Linked DNA regions of Homo sapiens. The protein of the gene in region 1 interacts with the protein of each later gene in a biochemical or structural test. Each region holds a gene or a part of one and is shown in the gene's direction. Other genes may lie near its edges. The genes, in order: LNX1, SEMA4F, FAM110D, GAGE12J, SMCHD1, NOSTRIN and PPFIA1.

Region 1 (3,500 bases):
AAGACAAAGATAAAAACAAGGGAGGAACCACCCAATGCTGTCTTTAATTTGGGGATGTGTGTGTCATGTTTTGAGTAAGCAAATGTGATATACGTTACACTGAAAGGCAGAACAAGGCCAAAGGTCAAAGTAACGTGGGAAGCACTAGCTATTTGAAAAACTGACCAGTTCTCCATCAGTGGAAGTGTTTCAGATAGAAGCTGGTAGGTGCTGTAGGGATCTTGAAAAGAGGATTTTTCTACTTGGTGAAAATCTAAGTTCCTTAACCGATCAAAATCCTATGACTTCTAAATAAATCATTTTAAAACCTCACATAGAGGTCGTCATATGGGTCACATCAAGAGATCACTACTCTTCCTTGATTGACACATTTGCTCAGGTTCTTCTCACCTGGATTACTTCCCACTTGTCCAGATCGCATTTATCATTCGTGATCCTTCCCAAGGACCGTCTATCCCATTAACTTTCCTTGATTGTTCTGGGCCACATGCACTCTCTATTGTCTCTCCTCCAAAGCTTGTCCATGGCTCCTGTCTTGGGGCATTATACACATTGCCATGTATTATGTATTCTCTTGCAGTGTTTTTACATTTTTTTTCCTGTGGATAAACTCTGTTTTCATAATTAGACTTAAATGTATTGGAGATGAAATGGAATTCCCTACAGGAACTCCCACAGAGTTTAAGGCCAATCCCAGGCATGGATTAGGCAAAGCCATGACCCCTGTAGAATTGAAACACAGCCGGAAAATGTTGAGAATTCAAATATCTTTCCTCATCTTGTCCTTCCCTCTGTAAAACTTGGTTATCTGTTTTAAAAAAAACAACAACAACAGAAAAAAAACCATACACACATAAACACTTTTTGAAATTGTTTTTCAGCTTTGGATGAAAGAATGTCAGTTTGCTTCTTTTCCATACCCCTCTGATATCAGCTCTTCCCGGGATCCTTGGTGACTCCTAGCATGAACAGAGCTCCGAATCAATGCAAAAATACTCTGCCTTCATTTGTCGTTGTTGTTGTTGTTGTTGTTGTTGTTGTTGTTGTTGTTGTTTGCAGGGGGTCAGTTCTATTTCATCATGTTTATGGACTAGGAAATGGAAGGACATCTTTTCTGTTACAGAGTTTTTACAAACAAACCCAAGTATGGCACCCCAGGGGAAAGGTGGTAAAATCTCGTCAAGAGAAGGAACACTCTTCTCTAACCTGCTTATGAAAGGCATTCCCTGACTTCTAAAACTTGCGTCTAATTGTCTAGCCACTTGGGACTCTTTTCGCTTAACCACTTCCCTTGTTTTTCCCACATTCTGAACATCTATGTCCTCCTTTATTGACTCCAGATGTATTACATGGTCTCCCTTTAGTTCAATTCTCCTGTAATTTCTTGACATGTTTCTGACCTCTTTAAAGACCATTTAAAAGGGTTTTTTTTTTCTGTATTTTTGGGTGTTTGCAATACTATACAGGCTAATGTCATTCACAGATTCATTAATGAGTGGCTTAGTCCCTCTTCGAGATCATTGATTTAGAAATTAAGCAGAAGCAGAGCTAACCACGACCTTGGCGGCAGCCTGTAAGCACCTGCCTCCCCACTCTTTCCTCTGCAGTGTATTTGCCCCCCATCATGCACACACAGACACATCACCCCAAACTTCCAACCCAGGTTCTTAGTTTGAAGATAATTTTATTCCATGTGTGACTATTTTTATCCAGGTCATTAATGCTCCTAATTCTTCCCTATTACATGAGAGTCTGTAAGCTAAGGAATAGCCCACAGAACACTGCCCATCCTCTGTGTATGTTCATTTACAATTGGCCTTTATAAAATTGCCATAAGAGTTTGATGGCACATTATCGATCCTGTCAAGTCTTACTAAATTTATCTAAAATTTAAAATGTAATTGTACATTTACTTTGTTTAATACAGAAAGATAGACTTTGCCCTAACTTTGGCAATTATTTTCCCCCCAGTAACCTGATTTAGGAGTTACAGCTAGGGCCAGGGCAGTAGTTAGGCAGACATGCCTGCTGGGTGAATTATTTTAGAAAGAGAGATGAGGCCACCATTTGAAGAAGTGGCAGGCGCTGGTCTGTTTGGTTCCTCTGTGGGTATATTTCTGCTGTTCGTGGTCCAGGATGGTGTTTCTGACTGTGATGGTGATTTTTGCACTGAGCTGTCACCCCAGTGACCAGTTTGAAACTAAGCAACCATTCTGCCACATGGAGCTTAATCCAAATTTTAAAGCATCATCAACAATTAAAAAAAAAACAAAAAAACAAAAAATCTTAAGCTCATTTTCTTGAAGCTAAAAGTAACCTCAGAAATAATCTGATATAGAGTTAGCCCTTGTGTGTTTGAAACATGCTGTAAAACAAGAGGTTGGCTGAAGGGAGTAAAATATTTTGAATAACTTTTAAATGTGCAAAAATTCAAAGCAAACATGAATACAGTAGGGCAGAGCCTCACACTGTTTGTAAAATGTCACATTCCATGTGGTGTCCTTGCTGGAGAGAACTCTTTATTACTTGACTGGGCTCGCTTATGTACTCATGAAACAAAGCTCTTACAGGATCCGGTCGTTTTGTGATCTTTTGTGAGACCTGGCCCTAGGTTACATTCTTTGCTTCTTTGAAGCGAGTCATTCCTCTTGCCTTGTGAACCCTTCAGCAAACTGTTCACCTGTGTGTCTCTGTCAAGTGTAACAATCAGCTGAAGCAACAATCAATTCTGACCTTGGGTGAAGTTTAGTGGCACACCTGGGAAGAGTTTGTAATTCTACTGTTTTGTCATTGTAGCTGGCTGGCCACCAGGTCAGGTAAAAGGAAAATATCAAGATCCAAAAAAGTAGTTGGTAGCAGAGCTGCATCCAAACCACAGTTTTGATATTCTTAGGTTTCTAAAATTAACAGTGACAAGGTCATAATTAAGGTGAGGCAAGTGAGACACTCACCTTCAGGTGCAAAATTTAAGGTGCAGAAAAATTCAGTAATCCTAATGTGAATGCAATATTTAAAAAAATGCAAAATGAATGCAAACAATCCATGATGAACAAAAGATCAAAATGTATTCAAATAAAGACAAGATCAGTAAGCTAAAGTTATTTAGAAATTGTTTAAGATCATCACTTAGTTAAGAGAAATGATCAAACATGGCAATTTCCTCAATCAAAAACAAGATGCGTGATATGGTTTGGCTGCGTCCCCACCCAAATCTCATCTTGTATTGTAGCTTCCATAATCCCCACATGTTGTGGGAGGGACGCAAGGGGAGGTAATTGAATCATGGGGGCGGGTTTTTCCCATGCTATTCTTGCGATAGTGAGTAAGTCTCATGAGATATGTTGGTTTTATAAAGGGCGGTTCCCCTGCACATGTTCTCTCGCCTGCCACCATGTTAGACATGTTTTTGCTCCTCCTTCACCTTCCGCCATGATTGTGAGGCTTCCTCAGTCATATGGAACTGTGAGTCCATTAAACCTCTTTTTCTTTATAAATCACCC
Region 2 (4,055 bases), on another chromosome or scaffold:
ATTTTCCCTCCAGGCTAAGCAATTCGAATTCAGGGACCATGTCTTTTGTTTGTTTGTTTTAAGCCACCAAATTCTGAGGTTAATTTGTTACATTTGTTTTGCAGCCTAAATAACTAATACAATGGGGGTGAAAGAGGAGAAAGCAAAGACTACCTACTAAGTGCAGACTAAGTGCTTGAAGAAGGAGCTAGGGGCCGGGCGCGGTGGCTCACGCCTGTAATCCCAGCACTTTGGGAGGCCGAGACGGGCGGATCACGAGGTCAGGAGATCGAGACCATCCTGGCTGACACGGTGAAACCCCGTCTCTACTAAAAATACAAAAATTAGCCGGGCATGGTGGCGCGCGCCTGTAGTCCCAGCTACTTGGGAGGCTGAGGCAGGAGAATGGCGTGAACCCGGGAGGCGGAGCTTGCAGTGAGTCGAGATCGCGCCACTGCGCTCCAGCCTGGGCGACAGAGCGAAACTCCGTCTCAAAAAAAAAAAAAAAAAAAAAAAAAGAAGGAGCTAGGGTTGGGATGGAGGAGATAGTGAGTTATCCTCAGGACCTATGCTTGCCTTGTTTATAGGATATCCAAGTGGATATGCCCATAGGCAGTCTTTGTTCCTCGCCCTCAAAGGCCTACCAACCCTAGAAGAATCAGTTCAAATGTCACCTCTTCTGTGAGGCCTTCCTGATTTCCTCTGGCAAAACCTGGCCCTTCTGCACACTTATTGCACGTTATTATAGCAAACGTGCATTGCTTCGTATTGCAATTATCTATTTGCAGTTATTTGCTTACATTTGGAAGCCCCATTACAGTGTGAACTCCCTAGGGCAAGGGCCGTGATTTTTAGTATTTTCTGTATAATCGTGTGTGTGTGTGTGTGTGTGTGTGTGCGTGTGTGTGTGCGCGCGCGCGTTACACTGTGCCTGCCCAGCACATAGGCAGCCGTCCTTAAATGCTTGCAAAGTATTAATTTTGAGAAACTTGGTGCGTGTATCCACGTCCTCTTATTAGTAAGTTTTCCTTATTAGTACAGCTATGGGCGTTTGAGTTTTTGGAGTGGCCGGAGCAAACTCGCCACTCGAGGTCCCTGAGTGGCAGCCCCAGCGCACTTCCGAGGCAGAACTCCCACCTTCACCTGGGTCTAGCTCCGCCTCTGCCTGGGTTAGGCCTCTCCTCCCCTCAGCCCCGCCTTCACTCAATCCCGATTGGCTGGAGGAAGAAGGAGGCCCGACCATTGGCCCCTTTCTGAGGGGGCGGAGCCGGGCGGTGTTTCATCCCTCAGCCTCAGGCTGAGCCGGACCGAGCCGAGAGGACCCGAGTGGGGCCGAGGCCAGTAGCCCCGGGGCCCTGAGCAGAGGCCGTAGCTTGCGCCGCACCCGCGGCCAGGCGGAGCCAAAGATGCCGGCCTCTGCTGCGCGGCCCCGCCCGGGTCCCGGGCAGCCTACAGCCTCGCCCTTCCCGCTACTGCTGCTGGCGGTGCTGAGCGGCCCGGTATCCGGCCGCGTCCCCCGCTCGGTGCCCAGAACCTCGCTTCCAATCTCTGGTAAGGCGCGGACGCCCACGCCCTCAGCCCTTCGCGCCCACACCCACACCCACACCCACCTGCTCCTCAGACCGCTCGGCCGGACCCGGGCCTCTCAGCCTGGTGTATGGCGTTTCACGCCGCCCACGCCCCGCCGGGACCGGGGCGAGATCTTCGCACTTCACCGCATCCTCTCTGCATCCCTCCCGCGCCCCTCAGCCCCTCATCCCCAGCCCGGGCCTCGCGCCTCGGCTCCCACGACACGCCCAGGCTGCACCAGCGGGCCCTATTCCCGGAGCCGCAGGAGCGTCCAGTCCTCACCGTGCAGACTCGGACACTGAGGCCCAGAGCTCGGGTGGGGGCTGCCCGAGGTCGTTCATTTCGAAGTTCCGTCTCCCTTAGTCCCCTGTTTCCCCGCACATACACCTGGGTCCATCATTCCAGCTTGACGCCCACTCTGCTTTCAGACCCATCAGTCTTTCATTCTACTCCAGCTTTCCATTCCGATCTCCAGGTCAGCATTTCCATCTTCTCCAATTCATTTCCCTATCAGTTCTATACATCATCCGAGCCTCTTGGCCCTTCTGACAGCCCTTCCCGCTCCCCTGACATCTCTGACAGCAGCTCCCATTCTCCCATTATTGGATCCACGTTAACTCTCTTAACTTCCTCAGTGTTCCTCGCTGCCTCTGCCCATTCCCTACATTGAATATTGGTAAACCATTCAATGTGTTGATGTAAAGTTCTGCTTAAATGATTTTTCAAGTCTTCAGAAGGAAAAATAGAGGAGGGGGATATGATCCTTTGAAAAGATGTGGAAGAAGCTAGGAGACGTCACAAGGTTAAAAGTGATCATTGGGGCGATTCACATTTTAGACTCTGCTGAGGTGGGTATGAGCATGGCCGTGGACCTTGTTGTCTTCTCAGTGGGCATTGAGTGTTATTAGCACCTTGGGCAGACAGAACCAGTGAAGCCAAGAGTACAACCTGTTGGCAACAACTCTGGACTGGTTAATAGTAGTTTAGAGTTTAAATTCAGACTAGTGCCATATAGGGATGCTGTGATTCCAGAAGGCGAAGTTGTGGCCAGAGCCTGGGGTTTCAGTTTGCACCCAAGCAATAGCCACAAAGTAAGTTGAGATTGCCAGGCTGGGTTGATGTCCAGGCATCCAGAGATGTCTAGATGGCAAGCAAGGTGAAGCAGAGTTGAGGATGTGAGGGGAAGTTAGGTGATCCAGGGCTTATACTAAGCATGAGAGAGTGGGCACAGAGGTAAGTATGGGTGTGGGAGGAAGGAGTGGGCGGGACTCATCAGTACATCTAGGAATGAATGGGTTGGTGTCCAGTCTGCAGTCTTGAGGGTACTGAGCAGAGGAAGCAGGTAGAGCAGAGCTGTATTGGTGCAAGGGTAGGGTCCCCAGAACCAGAGGTTGAGCTAGGAAGGTAAATTCATGCCAACTTATTCCAGTCTTTAAATAGATACGAATTTTGAATGCTAATATGAGGTTTAGATTTTTTTTTTTTTTGAAGCGGAGTCTTGCTCTGTCACCCAGGCTGGTGTGCAGTGGTGTGATCTTGGCTCACTGCAACCTCTGCCTCCCAGGTTCAAGCAATTCTCCTGCCTCAGCCTCCCAAATAGCTGGGATTACAGGTGCGCGCCACCTTGCCTGGCTAATTTTTTGTATTTTTAGTAGAGACGGGATTTCACCATGTTGGCCAGGCTGGTCTCAAACTCCTGACCTCAAGTGATCCACCCACCTCAGCCTCCCAAAGTGCTGGGATTACAGGCGTGAGCAACCGTGTCCAGCTAGTGCTCTATTTTTATAGAAAAAGCATACTTACCCACTGGATTGTGTGCTAAATATTCTGGCCTCATCTATCTCTGGTTCACTTGTCAAGGCTGTGTTTCTCCCCCATGGCTGCTTAATAAATGGTACTTGGAAGAAAACAAAAATTGGCCCCTTTGGTTTTGCTCTTGTGGACTTGACCCTTAGGAAGCGATGGCTAACATCACTCTCCTCTCTTCCTGCCAGAGGCTGACTCCTGTCTCACCCGGTTCGCAGTCCCTCACACATACAATTACTCTGTTCTCCTTGTGGATCCTGCCTCCCACACACTTTATGTTGGCGCCCGGGACACCATCTTCGCTTTATCCCTGCCCTTCTCAGGGGAGAGACCCCGCAGGGTGAGAGACAAGAGAGGGAAGGACCCCTGACCCTGTAGCATGTGATTAAATCTATGATTTTATGAGTGTGTGTGGGGGATTTCATAATAACTAAAGATGTAACAGCAGGGGTAGTAGGAGGGGGTGAGTTGGGAGACATGGGGGGAGATCATCCACTTTGTTTTCTTAGCTAAGAGTATGGCGGGTCAGGGTGACTGGGGAGGATATGAAGGAGGTTCATGATGATGGGGAGGAGACCACAGTGACCAGGTTTCAGGTGACAATGGGCAGAGGGATCATTAAAATTACAATACTCTAGGGAAACAGCTTTCAAACTTTTTTTTGACCATTATTAGAACTATACAGTTTGAGCATCCCTAAT
Region 3 (4,196 bases), on another chromosome or scaffold:
CACTCCAGCCTGGGTGACAGAGTTTGGTGAGCTTGGATAAGTCATTTCTCCTCTCTGAGCCTCAGTCTCTTCAGCCGTAAGTGTGAAAAATAATAAAACCTCCCCCAAAGATTGTCATGGGGATTATGACAAAGCAGCTAATGGCATTTTGAAAAGTGCTGTAGCAACAAAATATGGAACTATCACCAACAAAATCCCCCCTTTAGGTAATAAAAACCTTTTACCGGGAGATGGGCCTTGGGTTTTCAGACCCACTACTGACTTGACAGGCAGAGGATGCAGTTCCAAATGTGGATTTGGAGCTGGGCTTTGGGCATCTCTCTCCCCCCTCAGCTCCTGTTTCCTTACTCATTAAGTGGGGGGTCATTCCTGCTGGACGCCTGTCTAGGGTCCTTGTTTGGGGGCGGTCAAAGGAGATCAGAGAGCACAGACGGGAATGTGCTTTGCAAACATGAAAGAGGGCTAGAAAGGAGGAGGAGGGACTTGGGGAAGGTGGCCAGCCAAGGGGGGAAAGGAACCTTTGGCCTGAGCACTGGTCTTAGTCTGGGCTGGAGAGTTTAGTTTGCCTGCTGGGGAGAGGGGAGGTGTCTCCTATGAGGTAGGGTTTCACCTTGAGACATAAGGTGTCAGAGAAGAAACTCTGATGGAAGAAGCTCTAAGAGGCTCCAAGTGTGGGCAGAGAAGGAAGCGGGCCAAAGGACCTGGGCTTGGCCCTGGAATCAGCCCCTCATCACTGTCTTCCCAGGCAATCCCATCTGCCATGAAAGGACCTTGGCAGAGGCAGCTCCAGTGGGCTCCAGGGTCACCTTCATGACAAGACTTGCCGCCACAGGCTCACCTGCACATCTATAGCACCAATGCCCCCACCCTTAGGCTGCAGATTCCTGGTCTCGCCCCCAGGGAAAGCAGGCTTGACACCACCCAGCACCCAGACCAAGACAGGTCTCAGCCTGCTACAGAGGGAAAAAAGCAAGTTGACTAGAACCCTGTTCTGCCTTCCCATTCAGACTGTCAGAGCATCTGCCACAGCCCAGGGAGGGGGCTGATCCCACATACGGAGCCCCCACCCCAGGCCTTTGGAGGAAGCCTGGGGATCAGGAGGCCTTGTTTGGAGTCCTGGCTCTGCCCAAGCTCACAGTGCTTCCACAGCCAATCACCTAACCGGGCTGGGACTGTTTGACCATCTGTAAAATAAAAGGAGCTGGACTTGGTTCACAGGTCTCCACAGCGCAGGACTGTGATCAGGAAAGAGTTAATGGAGGCCAGGATCTGCCTCAGGAAGGCGAGGGTTAATTTGGGGGGCGGGGGGTGGAGGCTTTCTCTGCTTTTCCTGTGGAGAGTGAGGTTTGGCTGCCACCAAAGTTACTTCTAGTCCTTGCTGTCCACTCCTGCCCTCAGTCTGGACCTGCCCAAGGACCCCTGCAATTAGGCCTCCCATGCAGAGGTGAGTGTACCCTGAGCCCAGGGCTGGGGTAAGAAGGAACCCAGGGGCCTGAGGGCAGGGAGACTGGTGCCAAACTAGTGAGCCTAAAAGATGGCCCATGCCCAGAGCAGAAGCCTTGGGCAGAGTTGAGACCACAAGTTTCAGGACTGGGAGAAGGCAGGCAAAGGAATGGAGGGCCCGAGGCTGCCTGCCAGGCTTCTAGGGCGGGATGTCTGAGGTCCGGCCTCCAGGCTAGCCCAGAAGGCAGGGAAGAGGCTGTGGATGACAGACTATTTTGGTCCTTGTGATTAGGAACTTTTTATAGTCTCCCTGCTCAGGGCTGGGGAGAAGAGGAGAGGACAGAGGGCACCCATGGGGTCAGACAAGCAGTGCCTTCCTGGGACCTTGGAATCTGACCCACTGCCAAGGAGACTCCCTGGGAGACAGGGAGGGGGACACTGCCAGACTCTCCTTGGTTCCCAGGCCTCAACTACCTATGAGCAGACTGACTACACACTAGATGCTGGGTGCAGGGGTGGGCTGGACCTGGCAGGGTCTCTGCCCCAAGGCCTCTCACAGACTCCTTCCCCACTTCCCTGGCTAATTCTGTTCCTTTGTTGTCCCCAGATCCAAGGTCCCTCAGCCTCCAGGACTCAGGGGGAGTAGGGGAAGATAGGGGTGGGGTCGGGTGTGCAGGGCCATGTGGGTGGCCCATTCTGTTACTGCCAAGAGAACTGTCAGCTCTTGATTTACAACCCCTCCTCGCTCCTTGCCCCAGCAGAAGGGAGGTGGAAAAGGGTCATGAGGTCTTAGGATAAAAAAGGGACAAGGACCCTGGGGGCAAATTTCTGGGAGTGGGAGCGCAGGTTATTAGGAAGAATTAGTGGAAGGAACTTTTTAGTGAGGCAAGGGGCCCATTTCTAACGGAAATTGCTTGGTTTTATAGCAGCGGGAATACACGCAAAATATCAGTGAGTTCTTTTTTTTTTTCTTTTTTTTTTTTTGAGACGGAGTCTCGCTCTGTTGCCCAGGCTGGAGTGCAGTGGTGCGCGATCTCGGCTCACTGCAACCTCCGCCTCCCAGCTTCAAGCGATTCTCCTGCCTCAGCTTCCCAAGTAGCTGGGATTACAGGTGTGCGCCACCCCGCCTGGCTAATTTTTGTATTTTCAGTAGAGATGGGGTTTTGCCATGTTGGCCAGGCTGGTCTGGAACTCCTCACCTAAGGTAATTCACCCACCTCGGCCTCCCAAAGTGCTGGGATTACAGGCATGAGCCATCGCGCCTGGCCTCAGTGGGAAGTTCTGATAGGCAAGTGAGAGATCCAATCTGAACTGCAAGGCAAGAAACCTGGGTGACAAAGCAAGACTCCGTCTAAAGAAAAAAAAAAAAGAAACCTGGGTTCCAGTCCTGGCTCCTAACTCTCAATAGGACCTGAGCAAGCCCCCCTCCTCTCCAAGCCAGTTTCCTCTTCATGAAATGGAAATGCAAAGGTTAAACAAGGTGATGTTTACAGTTTGGCATTCTGCGATCCCCTTGGCAGGGGCAGAGTAGCTGGCAGTAGCTGATAGGGCCTGGGGACCACCTCCCTCTCCTGCCCCGATGGCCCTGCTGGGCCTGGGCAGGGCAGTTGGCTGCAATTACTGGAGGCTCCTACCCTGTGGTTATATCCCCGACCTCGGTGTTTGGGGGCGGGAAGGGTGGGCCCTGCTGGAGCCAGCCTGTGGCTGGGAGCCTTCTTGTCTTGGGCTCAAAGCTGCTGGGTTGGGAAGAGGTATTTTTTCCGGTTGAAGCCACTTTCAGGAATTGGGCCGGGACCAGCCCTGTTTCCTTTTCCAAGTGTCCTGCTTGCTAAGGCCTGCTTGCACGACCCTGTGGCCAGATTGGGGCACCTTCAAAGGGGAATATGTTTCTGAGTGGCCAGAGAGACCCCACTCAATGTCTCTGAAGGACAGGGAAAGGGGATGGCCTGAGCCTCTGCTCCCTGGATGTGGCACCGGCTAACCTGGATGGGAGAGGGTGGCTGACTGATCCTATACTGAGGAATGCCGGCAGGAGAGGACCAGGGGCATTTCCTACCCTTCCCCTGACCTTCCTCTCTCCCTGCAGGTCAGTGAGAGCCCAAGCCAATTGCTCTAGGCCCCGTGGCTGGCTACTTATGGGGCACTGTCCTGACCAGCTCTGCTAAGATGCTCCTGGCCCCTCCCTCCACCCCGTCCAGAGGACGGACCCCCAGCGCCGTGGAGAGGCTGGAAGCCGACAAAGCCAAGTATGTCAAGACGCACCAGGTGATAGCTAGGCGACAGGAGCCAGCCCTGCGTGGGAGTCCTGGGCCGCTCACGCCGCACCCCTGCAACGAGCTGGGGCCCCCTGCATCGCCCAGGACGCCCAGGCCGGTCCGCCGGGGAAGCGGCAGGCGGCTGCCGAGGCCTGATTCCCTCATCTTCTACCGCCAGAAGCGGGACTGCAAGGCTTCGGTGAACAAAGAGAACGCCAAGGGCCAGGGTCTGGTGCGGCGCCTCTTTCTGGGTGCCCCGCGGGACGCTGCCCCGAGCAGCCCGGCCTCCACAGAGCGACCTGCGGCTTCAGGGGGTTGGGCTGCGCCCCAGGATGCCCCGGAAGCGGCGGGAAAGCGGGCGCTGTGTCCCACGTGCTCGCTGCCCCTGTCGGAGAAGGAGCGCTTCTTCAACTACTGCGGCCTGGAGCGCGCGCTGGTGGAGGTGCTGGGCGCAGAGCGCTTCTCCCCGCAGAGCTGGGGAGCCGACGCCAGCCCGCA
Region 4 (4,183 bases), on another chromosome or scaffold:
TGTCTTATCCCTGATGAGAAACCGAAAAATTTCAACATTTCACCATCCTATTCACTCTCCTTTTTTTGTAGATGGACTTTATCAGAGTGAGTCATTCCATTCTGTTCCAAATTTGCTGAGAGTATTCATTTGAATATATGTTGATTTTCATCAAACAGTGCATCTATTTCGATTACCACAGCGTTTTTTCCCATTCATGTGTTAATATAGTGAATTCGATTGATAAATTTGTACGTTTTTAGGTTCGATTATTAAAACTTGAGACAGCGTCTCACTCTGTCACCGAGGCTGGAGTGCAGTGGTGTTATCAGAGCTCGCTGCAGCCTTGACCTCCTGGGCTCAGGCGCTCCTCCCACCTCAGCCTCCTGAGTAGCTGTGAGTATAGGTACATGCCACCATGCCCAGCTAATTTTTCGATGGTTTTTTGTTTGTTTTTTGTAGTGATGAGATTTTCTGATGTTGCTTAGGCTGGTCTCGAAGTCCTGAGCTCAGGTGATCTGGCCAGCTCAGCCTCCCAAAATACTAGGATTACAGGCGTGAGCCTTGGCCTGGTCTGGTTTTTCTTATATAGGGGTCTTATCTATATAAAGACTAAAGTTAATCTGTGCCTTTGTGCGGGTGGGCTAAGAGCATGATGACTTTTATCATTCTATTGATTTAAAGAAAACTATCCTTGACTTACCAGTGTGTAAGGCCATGAAAGCATAATTCTGTTGAAAGCATATATTGTTAATGGGTGTTGGGAACCGTGCACTTTCCGCTGCTGTGGGAGCATGTCCTTGGAGGTACCTTTCATCTGTTTTCTCAACTCCAAACATCTTAGGACCATGGGTTGTGACTGGTAGGACTATGTATCTTGCTGCTTTCAAGACGGAGTATATTTTCACGTGGTTTCACTCTGGCTGTCCTGTTTCCCTAATACTGTCACTTCACCCTCTGTGATTCTGATGCTACAAATGATAGATATCGTTTTAGCATTTTCTTACGGGTCCTAGCGATTCTATTCATTTTTCTTTCAGTCTCTTTCTCTGACTTGTTCACAATGAACAATTTCCTTTTGGGATAGGTTGCTATTTCTGTTTTCGCAGGTGGTTTACCTGTCTTCCCAGCCAGTCACAGTGGTCCTTGTCCCCATGGTGGGTCCGGGGCAAGAGAGGGCCCTGGGTTGGGGGTGGGGTTCAGTTGAAGATGGGGTGAGTTTTGAGGGGAGCACTACTTGAGTCCCAGAGGCATAGGAAACAGCAGAGGGAGGTGGGATTCCCTTATCCTCAATGAGGATGGGCATGGAGGGTTTGGGGCGTGGCGCTGGGAACGGCAGCCCTCCCCAGCCCACAGCCGCGCATGCTCCCTGGGCTCCCGCCTCAGTGCGCATGTTCACTGGGCGTCTTCTGCCCGGCCCCTTCGCCCACGTGAAGAACGCCAGGGAGCTGTGAGGCAGTGCTGTGTGGTTCCTGCCGTCCGGACTCTTTTTCCTCTACTGAGATTCATCTGGTAGGTCTGCAGGCCAGTCATCCCGGGGGCTGAAGTGTGAGTGAGGGTGGAGAGGGCCTTGGGTGGGTCAGGCGGGTCCCGCTTCCTGGTCTGTGGCCTCCGAGGGAGAAGGGCCACGAGGTCGTCCTCCTTCCCTTCACAGGCTGCGAGGCCACCGGCGGCTTCGTGGTCGTGAAGGGGCCTGGACGGGGAGGAAGGTGGGCCGTGGAGGGGAGGCGGTCAGGGGCTCAGGTGAAGATGGGGTGAGTGCTGTTGGGGGGATGGAAGTCCCGAGGTGCCGGGAACCCCCGACGACACAGGGCAGATTCCCTGAATGGGGCCTCCGGCGGGGGCGAGGCGGGCGGTGAAGAAGGGGCCTGGCACCTGGGAAGGCTGCGGCCTGGTGAGCGCCCCCCCCAGCGGTGTGGAGTGCGGAGCGCCTGAGTGAGAAGCACTGCAAGGTCTCACCTCCGCCATGGAAGGTCCGAAAACAGTGGGAAGGAGTGGGCGAGGCAGTGCGGTCCAACCAAACTTGTTGTGAGGGGGGGTGAATGGCTCTAGGAAGTGGGAGTGTGCCCAAAGCAGCAATCACGAGAATTGTGATTCACTAGGGTTTTCGTGGGGAGTGCACTTGTGAAACTAAACCTCATCAGAAATGACCTCTGTCTGCGGGGCGCAGTGGCGCTCGCCTACGTAGTCCCAGTTACTCGGGACACTGAGGTGGGAGGATCCCTTGAGCGGGAGGTCGAGGCTGCAGTGAGCTGTGATCACGCCGCTGCACTCCAGCCTGAGCAACACAGCGAGACCGCGTGTCCAAAAGAAATTTAGAAAAAAATGTCCTCTGCCTTTTGCCACATGCCTTAAGATGATTGCTCTGCCAGCCTGGCCAGCAGAAGTGGCTTTGTAGGCACTCAGACAGCGTACACACGTATGCTTAACTCTGGGACTTATCTTGAGAGTATTTTCAAAAGTAAAACGGCAAGTTTACATTTATCCATGGAAGTGATCGAATATAGCAGCCCTGTGGAGCGCACGTTCCCAATCACGGTTGTCTGTTTTCAGTGTGAAATATGAGTTGGCGAGGAAGATCGACCTATTATTGGCCTAGACCAAGACCCTATGTACAGCCTCCTGAAATGATTGGGCCTATGCGGGTGAGTGCTTGAACGTTAATTCGATGTTTTCTATTAGTAGAAATTAATTTTTGTGATAGCGTTGTTGCATTAGTGTGGAAATGCTGATAAAGGTCTTTCCTGCTCATAAAAAATGATGATGGCATCTCATGAAGGAAACATTGATTCTGGAGGATTTTTTTTTTCCTCTCGTGTTCTTCAGCTTTTGCCCATGACTTCTTTCTCCGGCTTTGTTTGTTAATGACAGATTGTACACATGTATTCCAACACAGAGTACAATAGCCTCCAAAGTCCTCGTGCGTCACTTTTCTCACAGTAACCTCCCTGTGGGTGGAGTAACCTTATTGGGCATAGAGCATAGAGTTGGAGAAATGTCTTTAGGCTTAGTTAGGACCAGAAATAGCTATGTATTCTGTGTATATATGTAAAATTTTGTATCAATAACGAAACTTATTTTTTATTTGCACACCCACACGTATTCCCCAGCCCGAGCAGTTCAGTGATGAAGTGGAACCAGCAACACCTGAAGAAGGGGAACCAGCAACTCAACGTCAGGATCCTGCAGCTGCTCAGGAGGGAGAGGATGAGGGAGCATCTGCAGGTCAAGGTGAGGGAAAGGGAAGAAGAACGTCTGCTGGTGTGTGCGTGTGTGTGTGTTCGTGTGTGTGTGTGCATGTGTGTGTGTGTGTGTGTGTGTGTGTGTTAGGCATTGTCACATAGGAGGAAGAGGAGGAAAGAAAACAATGGAAAGAATGCCTGAAATTGACTGGAAAAGCGAGGAGGCTATGTAGTTTGCAGCTTAGCTTAGGCAAATCCCTCACTATGATAAAAGTTCTCGACTTTATGAATGAGAGAATGGAGGTGCCAGGATTGTGTGTTATCCAAGAACCCTTGACTGGTGAATACAACATTTGTATTGTGTTCCAAGGTTTGTGTCTTCCTATCATGTGTGTTGCTGTAAAGAAGGAAGTGATTTTGCTGAAAATGCTTAAAACTCAAAAGGCTTTACTGTAAGGTAGCTTAGTACTGACCCAAGAATAGACCCAGTTCAGAGGAGCAGGAGCAGCTCCAAAAACCGAGTCGCTGAATGTTGGCCCCCGTTTCCTTTGATTGATATTTTTATATGGTACGTTTGATAAAAGCTGGATAAATGAGGATACTGCCATACAGGTAGCTGGTTTAGTGATTTTTCTCAGCGGCTTTTAGGAGGTGATTAAATCCTTTTATGGTTAGAAAAGCAAAAACGGAATTATCCTGAGATTAACGTGAGATGGAAATAATTTCTCCGAGATAAAATGTTTTGAAAGGAAGCGTTTATGTAATGGAGGTCATGGATTATTCCAGGGATGCACTGTTAAAAGTTCCTAGAATCTGACTGACAACAATGCCCATTAATTGCTGTCCACCCACTCCCTTATTCTCAGTGCGGGACAGTATATTTTCTGTGATTCACAAACAATGTTATATTTGGTGCTTTGTTCTTCACGGGGTTCATTTATGGAATATTACCTTTAGGACCTTCGGACCTAAATATAACTTTATTTGAACAAAGTGAAGTTTCTCTTTACCCCAATAGGTAA
Region 5 (3,500 bases), on another chromosome or scaffold:
TTCCATAATTTATTATAGCATTAAAAAAACTATTGCCAGAGGCTCAATTAACAAGGTTTTTATGGTTTCCTAAACTAAACTTTACTCACATGGAGATCTCAGTGTTTTTTGTTTGTTTGTTTGTTTTTAATGTAATGCGTTAAGTAATGATTTTTAAGTATTTTTTTGTTGAGCATCTGCTGACATAGTAAGTTACTGCACCTTTTGACTGTGTGGTGGAGAATTCAGAGATATAGGAGATGTGCTTTGCTCTTGGTGATATTATATCCTAGCAATGGGGATAGTGTAAGCATAAATAATAGGTAAGAAGTGGATCAATGCAATGGAAAGAAAGGATTAATAGTGTTTTGGCAGGTTAGAAGGAGAGAAGAGGAGAGGATTTTTTTTTTTTTTTTTTACTTTGGTTGGTCGTGTGGGCTGGAAGAACAGAGCAGATCGTTAAATACTTTGGAAAAGAAGTAACATTTGTGTGGACCTTGAAAGGGGTAGAGGCTCAGGTTTACACAGATAATTACAAGGTAGAAGGCTCTCTGTTCTCTCCATAAATGAGAGATACCATCATATATTTAAAGCTATAGAATTGGATGAGATCATCTATACTTGGTGAGTATAGCTAAAGAGGTAAAAGGATTGAGCCTGGAGCTTTCCCAACATTTAGTGGTTAGAATGAAAAGGAGGAGCTGGCAGAGGAGACTGACAGGGATAAGCTGGTGAGACAGAAGGAAACTAGCAGAATGTGACATCCCTAGAGCCAAGTGAAGAGTTACAAGAAGAAAGGAGTGATCAGTTTAGTCAAATGCTTAGTGGTAATGGAGTAAAGTGCTTTCTAGAAGGTAATCTGAGCATAGAGATGTGCGTAGGTTAAGTGCAGAAAAACAGCAAGTAGTAAGAGTTGGGTTGTCCTGCTGCCTATTGTATGTGTGAAGAGAAATAGTTTAGAAATGGGGCAGGCAAGGTAGGTTGGGATAAACTCTTATAGTCCTTGTTGGGAATTTCTGAATTGGAGTAGTGGAAATTTCCCTTAGATTTTTTAAACCAAGTAAGGAGAAGAAATATGATAGGCAAGTTTTGAGCTGATGTATTTGAAAAATAATATTAACTTGTCAAAGTTTATAAATTGCTGTTCATCATCTGAGAGCAGAATTTTATGGGGAAAAAAGGTTTCAGATATGTTGGCATTCATTATGACTGAATTTGAAGGAATTCTGGACTTGTAAGACACATGCTTAATTCTAACACATTTGTATAAAGAAGCTGCCATATTTTTACAACTATTTGTTAAGTACAGAACTTCAAAAATACAATTTTATTTTAATATTAGAATGCTGTTTTCATTAGTTTTTCTAATGATAGTTACCAAGGTTTTTTTCTTTGTAATAAAGAAGTTCTGTAAAATTATTATTAAGCCTTTTTCTCTTCGTAAATCTTAATACTGAAGCTTTTTTTTTTTTTAAAAACTAAATATTAGGTCAAGACAATCAAGACACTTCCCCTCTTTTATGGAAGCATAGTAAGATTTTTTCTTTATGGCGATCATGATGGAGAAGTATATGCTACAGGAGGAGAGGTTCAAATTGCAATGGTAAGACAGCAAGTGATAAAACATACTGAAAGTTTCTTGATAACACTTTTGCATAATTGTTAAGATACAGTATATTTCGCTAGTGACTAGTTTTCCATTGGATAAAGTGGTTGTAGTTTTTGTGTGGATTTTTATGTGTCATAAGTTGATGTTTTTAATAATCTATACAATTTAACATCATATGCTCAGTTTTTGTAAACATATATACATTATAACTAGTTACCAAATTAATTTTATAAAGTCATATTTCCTCTAGGGCCCACTAACTAGTAAACATTGGAGCCAGAATTCTATCTCAGCAATGAGTAACTACAAAACTGGAGTGGGTTTTTTCCCTATACCATGCTTTCTTGTTAATGTTTGATATGTTAGGACTACAGAGGTTATATAAAAAATATAAACAAACATTGTGGTGTAACGTAAGAATAGCTACTGTTATTTATGTACTTAATTAGGATAAAATATATTTCTTTGGAAGAAACAAATGGGTGTTTGTTTTTATTACAGCTAGATTTAAATAGTTTTCTTTGAAATGTTGGTAAATGTATTTATTCAGGAACCTCAGGCACTATATGATGAAGTAAGAACTGTGCCAATTGCAAAGCTGGATAGGACAGTTGCTGAGAAAGCTGTTAAAAAATATGTAGAAGATGAAATGGCAAGGTAAGTCACACTTCAAGATGCATGACAAAAATAAGAAAAATTGGAAAGAATTGTGCTGTAAGTATTCTGAGTATGTCATTTACTCTGCTGTTAGGGCATTTGTAGTCTTAGATATTGTACCTATTGAGATGAACTTCTTGTTGAAAAAAATTAAGAGGTCTAGTTATACAAACAGAATTCTGCATTTGTTTTGTAGACAAAGAAGGAAATCTTATATATCTAAAGTGTCACTTTTATAGGCACTATGATTAACATGTTTTAAAAAAACTCAGTTTGGCCTACAACTAGGATATTACAATACCTGCTGAGAGGTAAAGATGAGTGTATTAGTTCGTTTTCACACTGCTATAAAGATACTACCTGAGACTGGGTAATTTATAAAGCAAGGAGGTTTAATTGACTCAGTCGTGCATGGCTGGGGAGGCCTCAGGAAACTTATAATCATGGCATAAGGCGAAGGGGAAGCAAGCCATGTCTTACATGGGCGGCAGAAGAGAGAGAGAGGGAAGGGGGAACTGTCAAACACTTTAAAAATCATCAGCTCTCGTGAGAACTCACTATCAAGAGAACAGCATGGGGGAAACCATTCCTGTGATCCAATCACCGCCCACCAGGTCCCTCCCTTGACACCTGGGGATTAGAATTCGAGATGAGATTCGGATGGGGACACAGAGCCAAACCTTATCAGTGAGTTATAAAGAAGAAGAAGGAAGTAGAAAGTGGCTTTTCTTCTTGTATAGCTAATGATGCAATCATTTTGATTCTTACTGAATTTTGATTCTTAGGGGTTATCCTGTCTTCTAAAGGTAATTTGTACTATAAACAAGTAGAAAAAAAAAATCAACAAAAATTTGACAGTTTCTGGCTTTTAATTCCAAAAGGTTTTTTTTTTTCTTCTTCTTTTTTTTCAGTAGCCACAGGAATGGTTAGGGAGGAAAAAAATTTTTAGATGATTAATCGTAAAGAATTCCAGATTTAACCTTTTAAAATATATCAGCAATAAATATTTAAGTTTCTAATAACTCGTATCTTTTTAATTAAGATCATAATTAACAAAGTTTGTGGAACATTAATATGCTGGTTTCATAACAGGCTCCCTGATAGATTGTCAGTAACTTGGCCTGAAGGAGATGAATTATTGCCTAATGAGGTTAGGCCTGCTGGAACCCCTATTGGTATGTTTGTTTATTTTTCTAATACCAAAAAGTGTGCTTTTCTTTTGTCTTACATTTCCAATATGTAAAAGGTCACGAGA
Region 6 (3,500 bases), on another chromosome or scaffold:
GCACAGAATTTTGTCATTGTCATTACCAGCATACATGTATTAGGATCATCTGGGTCCTCTCACCTGAAGCACACAGTGGAGGACACAAGGAGGGAGAGCATCTGACCTTGGAACTTCCAATGTTTATGATCTGGTGAAGGAGCAACTATGAACCTTTAAGTGAGGAATGCCAAATATCCACATGATTTCATTACGCATGCTCTGCATCTGGGTAGACAGAAACTAGTGATACTGGTAGATTTTGTGTCACCCACGGAAGGTTTCTAGGATGAGGAAACTTTTATTTACATTCTTCCTTATTTCATTATATCTTGGTCCTTGAAGTGCCATGTTTGAATCAAGAATGTTCACAAGCAGTGTCATAAGAAAAATTGTTGAGAAAACTGGAGGCACTTAGATTAAATACTGTCTTTAGAGACCAGAAAGAGGGCCACATAGAAGAAGAACTAGATGTGCTCTATGAGACTATCAAGTGAAGGTCTAATGGTAGAAAGCATGGGGGAGCTTTTAGTTTTGTCTTAGGTAAGCCTGCCCCACAATGCAGTGGATTCCTCCAACGATTAGAGACTTTCTCCATCAATTGGATGTCTTCTGTCCATGGCTGTGACACCCTGGCAGGGATATTAGGGTTGGGAATTCCCATGCTGGAGGTGTGGGGGAGAGAGGGATAATGGTGAGGAGGGGGCTGGATAAGCAAGACCCTTCCAATGCTTAGATTCTGTTATTTAATTCACCCTGGCTGGACCCAGCCTGACAAGGTAATTATAAAGTTTCTAGTTCAAGGTCATATCAAGAACAGACAGAGACTAGGAGTGTATCTTTAGCTTGACTTATTATGTTTATACTCAAATGCCCTAAAATATTGTTCCCAGTTTCCAGAAGTATTCCTGTAAACTTTGTGGGTAATATAAGACCTCACCTTATCAAAGAACAAACAAACCTCACATTCAATTTCATTTGCGTCTATTGATGTTAATTCAATTCTGTTCACAATATTTAGCACTGATGGCTCACCTTCTTCGCAGACCACCAAAAATCTACCTTCTACAATCAACACTTATCCCCTTTCTTGTCCCTCAGCAGAAAATTGAGTAAAACCTCTTCATTGCCATAAAATACTAATATATTACCAAGGTTTCCTGTTCACCCCCAGAGTACAGAATGAGACACACTCAACAACTAAAACCTCCCTCTAAACTGCTTAAAGAGTTTATTCCTCCATTTTTTTTTCCTTCGGCATTTTCTGTGAATATCTGTATGAGTTAAATGCGTACTTTTCTAACCTTTGTTATTTTGAAAGTTATTCTGATATTCCTATCCAGTTGTGCCTCATTTACTAGAAATTTGCTCACATGGCCAAATGATGTATCCACAGAACAATTTGAAACTAGACCTTTTGGAAGCGAACTCCTACAAACTGTCATCAATGTTAGCAGAACTTGAGCAAAGACCTCAACCCAGCCATCCTTGTAGTAATTCCATCTTCAGGTGGAGGGAAAAGGTAACATTTAAGGAGACTGGTTGTAATTTCTTGATTGGGCCTGCTGGGTGGAGTGGCTTAAAGTAGCATCAGGGCAAAAAAGGTGTTAGGAATTCTATGTGATATTAATATTCATGCAGTTAGTTAAGAAGATAAATGTTTTTATTTTTCTTTTGAGCACAATAACAAGAGCTAGACAAAACCGAATACATTCTGTGTACACCAAACTTCTATGAGAAGCTAAAAAACACTTTTGATTTCTTCTTTCTCATCATACCTGAATTTCATCCTTTGGATGTGCTTTTACAGTAAAATTTCTATTAAATTGAAATTTTAATATTCGTTCAGACCTAAATTATAAGATTTTGTGGTATGTATTAGTCTCATCTGTTTAAGATGGTGCCTAATGCAGATAATGCATCAGTACAGCTCTGAAATGCTTGTAGCTATTTTTATTACTGATCAGAAGGGGGAACTGTAATCATCTTGTGAAGGGACAGTTTTCTAAGGCTCAAGAGCTCGAAAACAATCTCAATCATTTACAGGGTTGTGATCATTTCACTTGCATTAAGCCAACTAAAGTTGTATTTGTAAAAGTAATGCTATGAATATTACTATTTGACCTAGACACATAGGTTAGAATTGGAAACACAGGCTATAAAGTATAGTAATTGTGTAATTGTGAAAATATTAAGGCTTCAACTCAAAACTGAAACACAGTAGGGCTTAGAAATCTTTGAATTATTTATACCCCTCAGTTTAAAAACTTCCAGTCCAGGCGCAGTGGCTCATGCCTGTAATCCCAGAACTTTGGGAGGCCAAGGCAGGCGGATCACCTGAGGTCAGGAGTTCGAGAGCAGCCTGGCTGACACGGTGAAACCCCGTCTCTACTAAGAATACAAAAATTAGCCAGGCATGGTGGTGGGCACCTGTAATCCCAGCTACGGGGGAGGCTGAGGCAGGAGAATCACTTGAACCCGGGAGGTGGAGGTTGTAGTGGGCCAAGATCATGCCACTGCACTCCAGCCTGGGTGACAGGGCAAGACTCTGTCTAAAAAAAAAAAAGAAAAAACAAACAGAAAAAACAACTTGAGGAAAACAGCTACAGAAGAGTTAATTTTCATGAATGTTTATGATAATCGTGTTACAAAATATGACTTTTTATGTCATTTGAACAGGAGCATACTCATAGCTATGTGAAAATATCTCGGCCTTTTTTAATGAAGAGATTAGAGAATATTGTGAGCAAGGCATCTTCTGGTGGGCAGAGCAATCCAGGTTCTTCAACTCCAGGTAATCCCATGCCCACAATCATTTTGGCCTGGGTCCTACTGGCAGGGCACATTGCTACATTTAAATTTTAGTTTCAGAGCCACTTTGACCTGTATCTGTTTAAGGAAATTTATATTTCCATTGGGACCGATTAATTTGTTAGACTCTGTAGCTTTATGTAAAAATGGGAAAAAGTTAAGAAGAGTAGAGGGTTGGGAAAGTATCCTATGAGAAGTTGCCTCAGATATCAGATGACTGGCATCCACCTTATTCAAATGGCCTGTTATTTGCCATAAACATAATCACACCTAAACCATCGTGAGGAGCTTTGTCGCTCTGTCTCCATAGCCTCCTCCAAACTCCCATAAGAAGCCTGTCCTCTCTGCGAGACACATGGTGATCCAGGTGGTTTGCCAGGGCTTGGACTCATGGCCTACAAACTCCTGTTAGCAGCCATCTGACTTCAGTCATTCATGCACCCACACACCACACTGCTCTTCATCTTTCAGCACACACACACGTGTCACTGTACCTGCATGTTCAAGTATAATTACCATAATCTTGACTATCTAGTTTTTTAAATTAGAAATTGGTTTAAAAAAAAAAAAAAGAACTTCAGTAAAACCAGGACATTATGGTTCACACAATATATTAAGGAGTCACTGTTGCATTGTTTGAGAAACAGTTCCATACACAGCTAGGGATGATGATAACATGCACATGCCCCAAATATCCCGTATTTATACCT
Region 7 (3,500 bases), on another chromosome or scaffold:
AAAAAAAAAAAAACTTCAGACAACTAGTTTTTGGTTTTTTTTTTTTTTTTTGGTCTATTGGCTTTCCCTTTTCTGTTGGAAGCATGAGAGTCCTGCAATAAACCAGATAAGGACGATCTTTCATTCCAGCCCATGTGCCTGATCAGAAGAGTGACATATATTTAGTTCTTACATGGAAAGAGAAGTGTTTTTAGGTGTGCCACATGAAGATTTTATTAATTTTGTTTTTATGGGTAATTGCCTTATGCCATTCTTTTTGACTCATGGGCTCATTTGAAAAACAGGGAACTTTTATTCCTCTACAGAACATTGAATATGCCAGGCAAGGTGGCTCATGCCCACAATCCCAACACTTTGGGAGGCCCAGGTAGGCAGATTGCTTGAGTCCAGGAGTTCGAGACCAGCCTGGCCATCATGGTGAAGCTCTGTCTCTACAAAAAAATACAAAAAAATTAGCCAGGTGTGGTGGCACATGCCTGTAGTCCCAGCTACTTGGGAGGCCAAGGCAGGGAGATTGCTTGGCCCGGGAAGTGGAGGTTGTGATGAGCTCTGATTGCGCCACTGCACTCCAGCCTGAGTGACAGAGTGAGACCCCCATCCCAAAGAAAAAGGAAAAAAAAAAAAAAAAATTGAATATCTTTGGCCAATACCCCTGACCAACCCACACAACACACCCTTGTTAATATGACTCCAAGGATCATGGATCCCTTTCTGCAAAAGCCCATCCATTGACTCCACATTAGATGCCCTGATTTAAAATATTATTATGGTTCAATGTAGTCATAGCAGTGAGGGAGTTGTTTTTTTGTTTGTTTTGAGATGGAGTTTCGCTCTTGTTGCCCAGGCTGGAGTGCAATGGTGCAATCTTGGCTCACTGCACCCTCTGTCTCCCAGGTTCAAGTGATTTTCCTGCCTCATCCTCCCAAGTAGCTGAGATTACCGGCACACGCCACCGTGCCCGGCTTATTTTTGTATTTTTAGTATAGATGGGATTTCACCATGTTGGCCAAGCTGGTCTCAAACTCCTGATCTCAAGTGATCTGCCTGTCTCGGCCTCCCAAAGTACTGGGATTACAGGCATGAGCCACCACACCCAGGCCCTAATTTTTGTATTTTTAGTAGAGACGGGGTTTTACCATGTTGCCCAGGCTGGTCTTGAACTCCTGACCTCAGGTGGTCTGTCCGCCTTGGCGTCCGAAAGTGTTGGAATTACAGGCGTGAGCCACCAGACCCAGCCAGCAGTGAGGGAGTTTAAGTCTTGGTTTAAAAAACAATTACGATGCTAACACCCTTCAAATTAGATTTGATGAAAGTTTTATTTGTTTTTCTTTGGTTATTTCAGGCTCGTGCTGTCTTGGAAAGAGAATTTAACAACCTTTTGGTCATGGGGACTGATAGAAGGTTTGATGAAGTAAGTTTTTGGCCTAATGTTCTTTAAATGTCTGAAATGTGTGTAAATGTTTAAATGTGTGTGAAATGTAAGCTGTTATTATTATTATACTTGGGACATCATGTAGCTAGGCAGTCTCTCTGGATGTTAGAAGTCAGGCTTTGCTCTTATACATTTATTCACAAATGAGCCTTTAAAAACTAATACCTGGGCCGGGCACGGCGGCTCGCACCTGTAATCCCAGCACTTTCGGAGGCTGAGGCGGGCGGATCACCAGAGGTCAGGAGTTTAAGACCAGCCCGGCCAACATGGTGAAACCCCATCTCTACTAAAAAACACAAAAATTAGCCGGGCGTTGTGGTAGGTGCCTATAATCGCAGCTACTTGGGAGGCTGAGGCTGGAGAATCGCTTAAACCTGGGAGGTGGAGGTTGCAGTGAGCTGAGATCGCACCACTGCCCTCCAGCCTGGGCGACAGAGAGAAACTCCATCTCAAAAAGAAACCCCCTCCCCGCAAAAAAAAAACCCACAAAAGTAATACCTTCAAGAAGGTAGTTTTGTTTTTATTTTTGCTATTTAATTTTTGACATCCCTCAAAAATGGTTTTCACATCATAAAACATTGGTTGCAGCTTAGGAACAGAGTCTGTAAGTTGGGTTTTGGGGACCAGTAGTTATCCTACCCCAGTCCAGAGTGTACCCCCATACTCCTGTGCATGGGTGGGGTGGCATGTTTCAGAAGTATATTAAAAACACAAAATGTTAATTTCCCCTTAAAACCATGACTCATTTGTTCCACACGATTAGGAGTCTCTTAATTGGACCTTAAGAAAAGTTGAGTTTGACAGAGAGAATAGAAGACCACCTCTAAAGATGAAGCACTTGTTGCTATATCCTGGCATAAGATAAAATTGTTTCTAGTTAAAAATTGTTTGTAGAGCTGCGTGTGGTAGGGGCACACCTGTAGTTCCAGCTACTTAGGAGGCTGCGGTGGGAGGATGGCTTGAGCCCAGGAGTTTGAGGTTACAGTGAGCTATAATCACACCACTGCATTCCAGCTCGGGCAACAGATCTAGACTCTGTCTGTAAAAACATAAATAAAAATGAAAAATAAACTATTTTTAAGATAAATAAAAACGTATTACGTTGCAAGAAAGTGATTCCTGCAAGGTGTAAGAAGTAGAACATGATGCTGTGGAGAAGGAGCACATCCTCATGGCCCAGCACCGACCTCATTTCGCCAGCTGAGGCCCAGCCGGACCATCACCATGCCCCGTTTCACGCTGAAGTTCCAGGTTGGGCAATATATTGTGTGGTCATCAAGAAGGGATTAAATACATGTGGACAAGAATACATTCTCGAGATCAGCAGTCATTTTAAAGGACATGTAACTTTACATCTCTGACCTTTATTTTTTAAATGAATCTTGTTTTTTGTTCCTTAATTTACCAGGATGATGATAAAAGCTTTAGGAGAGCACCTTCATGGAGAAAAAAGTTTAGACCAAAGGACATTCGTGGCTTAGCTGCTGGGTCAGCAGAGACTCTCCCTGCAAACTTCCGGGTGACTTCTTCTATGTCTTCCCCCTCTATGCAGCCAAAGAAGATGCAGATGGACGGTATGTGATGGGTCACACTAACCTGTCACTTGTTGGGAGCATGAGCAGCTTTCTGTCTGGAACATTAATAATGATCTAAAACGGCCTATTTAATATGTTACAAGGCACTTGAGTATGGTTGCATGTCCAAATATAAATGTTTTTAAATTAACTCTAACATTTGTTTATAAAAGTTTAACCATAATAATAGAATTTTTAAAACACGCTTGTCTGGTTGAATCTTAGCATATTTTTCCAACTAATAAAGCTCAGTATTCGTCTGTGTTCTCAGAGAGAGACTGAGGCATACTTGTAAATTTGTGTCTGTGACAGGCCGTGCTAGAAAGCTCTTTCAGGAAATAGTAGTGTAGTAGTAGCTTCCAAACCACATAATTTACTGCTCTCCACACCAGAGAAAATAACTGAGTACATTTTTAAGAACACACAGTTTCCAGCTTGTGTGAGCTCTGCCTATGCTTTCTGCCCTCCCTGCTGCTGCTGTTCCGTGCAGTCAC

The links.
Region 2: the proteins of LNX1 (region 1) and SEMA4F interact in a test that uses a peptide from one of them, tested with the Homo sapiens proteins (one large-scale study listed by IntAct).
Region 3: the proteins of LNX1 (region 1) and FAM110D interact in a test that uses a peptide from one of them, tested with the Homo sapiens proteins (one large-scale study listed by IntAct).
Region 4: the proteins of LNX1 (region 1) and GAGE12J interact in a test that uses a peptide from one of them, tested with the Homo sapiens proteins (one large-scale study listed by IntAct).
Region 5: the proteins of LNX1 (region 1) and SMCHD1 interact in a test that uses a peptide from one of them, tested with the Homo sapiens proteins (one large-scale study listed by IntAct).
Region 6: the proteins of LNX1 (region 1) and NOSTRIN interact in a test that uses a peptide from one of them, tested with the Homo sapiens proteins (one large-scale study listed by IntAct).
Region 7: the proteins of LNX1 (region 1) and PPFIA1 interact in a test that uses a peptide from one of them, tested with the Homo sapiens proteins (one large-scale study listed by IntAct).

What each region holds. Positions count from the first base shown.
Region 1 is NC_000004.12:53,581,487-53,584,986, reverse strand, and holds part of LNX1 (E3 ubiquitin-protein ligase LNX), read left to right. Parts: intron 1-3,500.
Region 2 is NC_000002.12:74,652,992-74,657,046, forward strand, and holds the start of SEMA4F (semaphorin-4F isoform 1 precursor), read left to right. Parts: upstream 1-1,255; 5' UTR 1,256-1,385; coding exon 1,386-1,530; intron 1,531-3,542; coding exon 3,543-3,694; intron 3,695-4,055. UniProt on the Homo sapiens protein: Probable cell surface receptor that regulates oligodendroglial precursor cell migration. Might also regulate differentiation of oligodendroglial precursor cells. Has growth cone collapse activity against retinal ganglion-cell axons.
Region 3 is NC_000001.11:26,157,683-26,161,878, forward strand, and holds the start of FAM110D (protein FAM110D), read left to right. Parts: upstream 1-1,396; 5' UTR 1,397-1,444; intron 1,445-3,529; 5' UTR 3,530-3,609; coding exon 3,610-4,196.
Region 4 is NC_000023.11:49,320,654-49,324,836, forward strand, and holds the start of GAGE12J (G antigen 12J), read left to right. Parts: upstream 1-1,383; 5' UTR 1,384-1,491; intron 1,492-2,532; 5' UTR 2,533-2,540; coding exon 2,541-2,624; intron 2,625-3,089; coding exon 3,090-3,210; intron 3,211-4,183.
Region 5 is NC_000018.10:2,704,226-2,707,725, forward strand, and holds part of SMCHD1 (structural maintenance of chromosomes flexible hinge domain-containing protein 1), read left to right. Parts: intron 1-1,468; coding exon 1,469-1,582; intron 1,583-2,138; coding exon 2,139-2,245; intron 2,246-3,337; coding exon 3,338-3,420; intron 3,421-3,500. UniProt on the Homo sapiens protein: Non-canonical member of the structural maintenance of chromosomes (SMC) protein family that plays a key role in epigenetic silencing by regulating chromatin architecture.
Region 6 is NC_000002.12:168,858,137-168,861,636, forward strand, and holds part of NOSTRIN (nostrin), read left to right. Parts: intron 1-1,375; coding exon 1,376-1,501; intron 1,502-2,658; coding exon 2,659-2,773; intron 2,774-3,384; exon of another isoform or gene 3,385-3,500. UniProt on the Homo sapiens protein: Multivalent adapter protein which may decrease NOS3 activity by inducing its translocation away from the plasma membrane.
Region 7 is NC_000011.10:70,375,190-70,378,689, forward strand, and holds part of PPFIA1 (liprin-alpha-1), read left to right. Parts: intron 1-1,342; coding exon 1,343-1,411; intron 1,412-2,840; coding exon 2,841-3,006; coding exon of another isoform or gene 3,007-3,014; exon of another isoform or gene 3,015-3,282; intron 3,283-3,500. UniProt on the Homo sapiens protein: May regulate the disassembly of focal adhesions. May localize receptor-like tyrosine phosphatases type 2A at specific sites on the plasma membrane, possibly regulating their interaction with the extracellular environment and their association with substrates.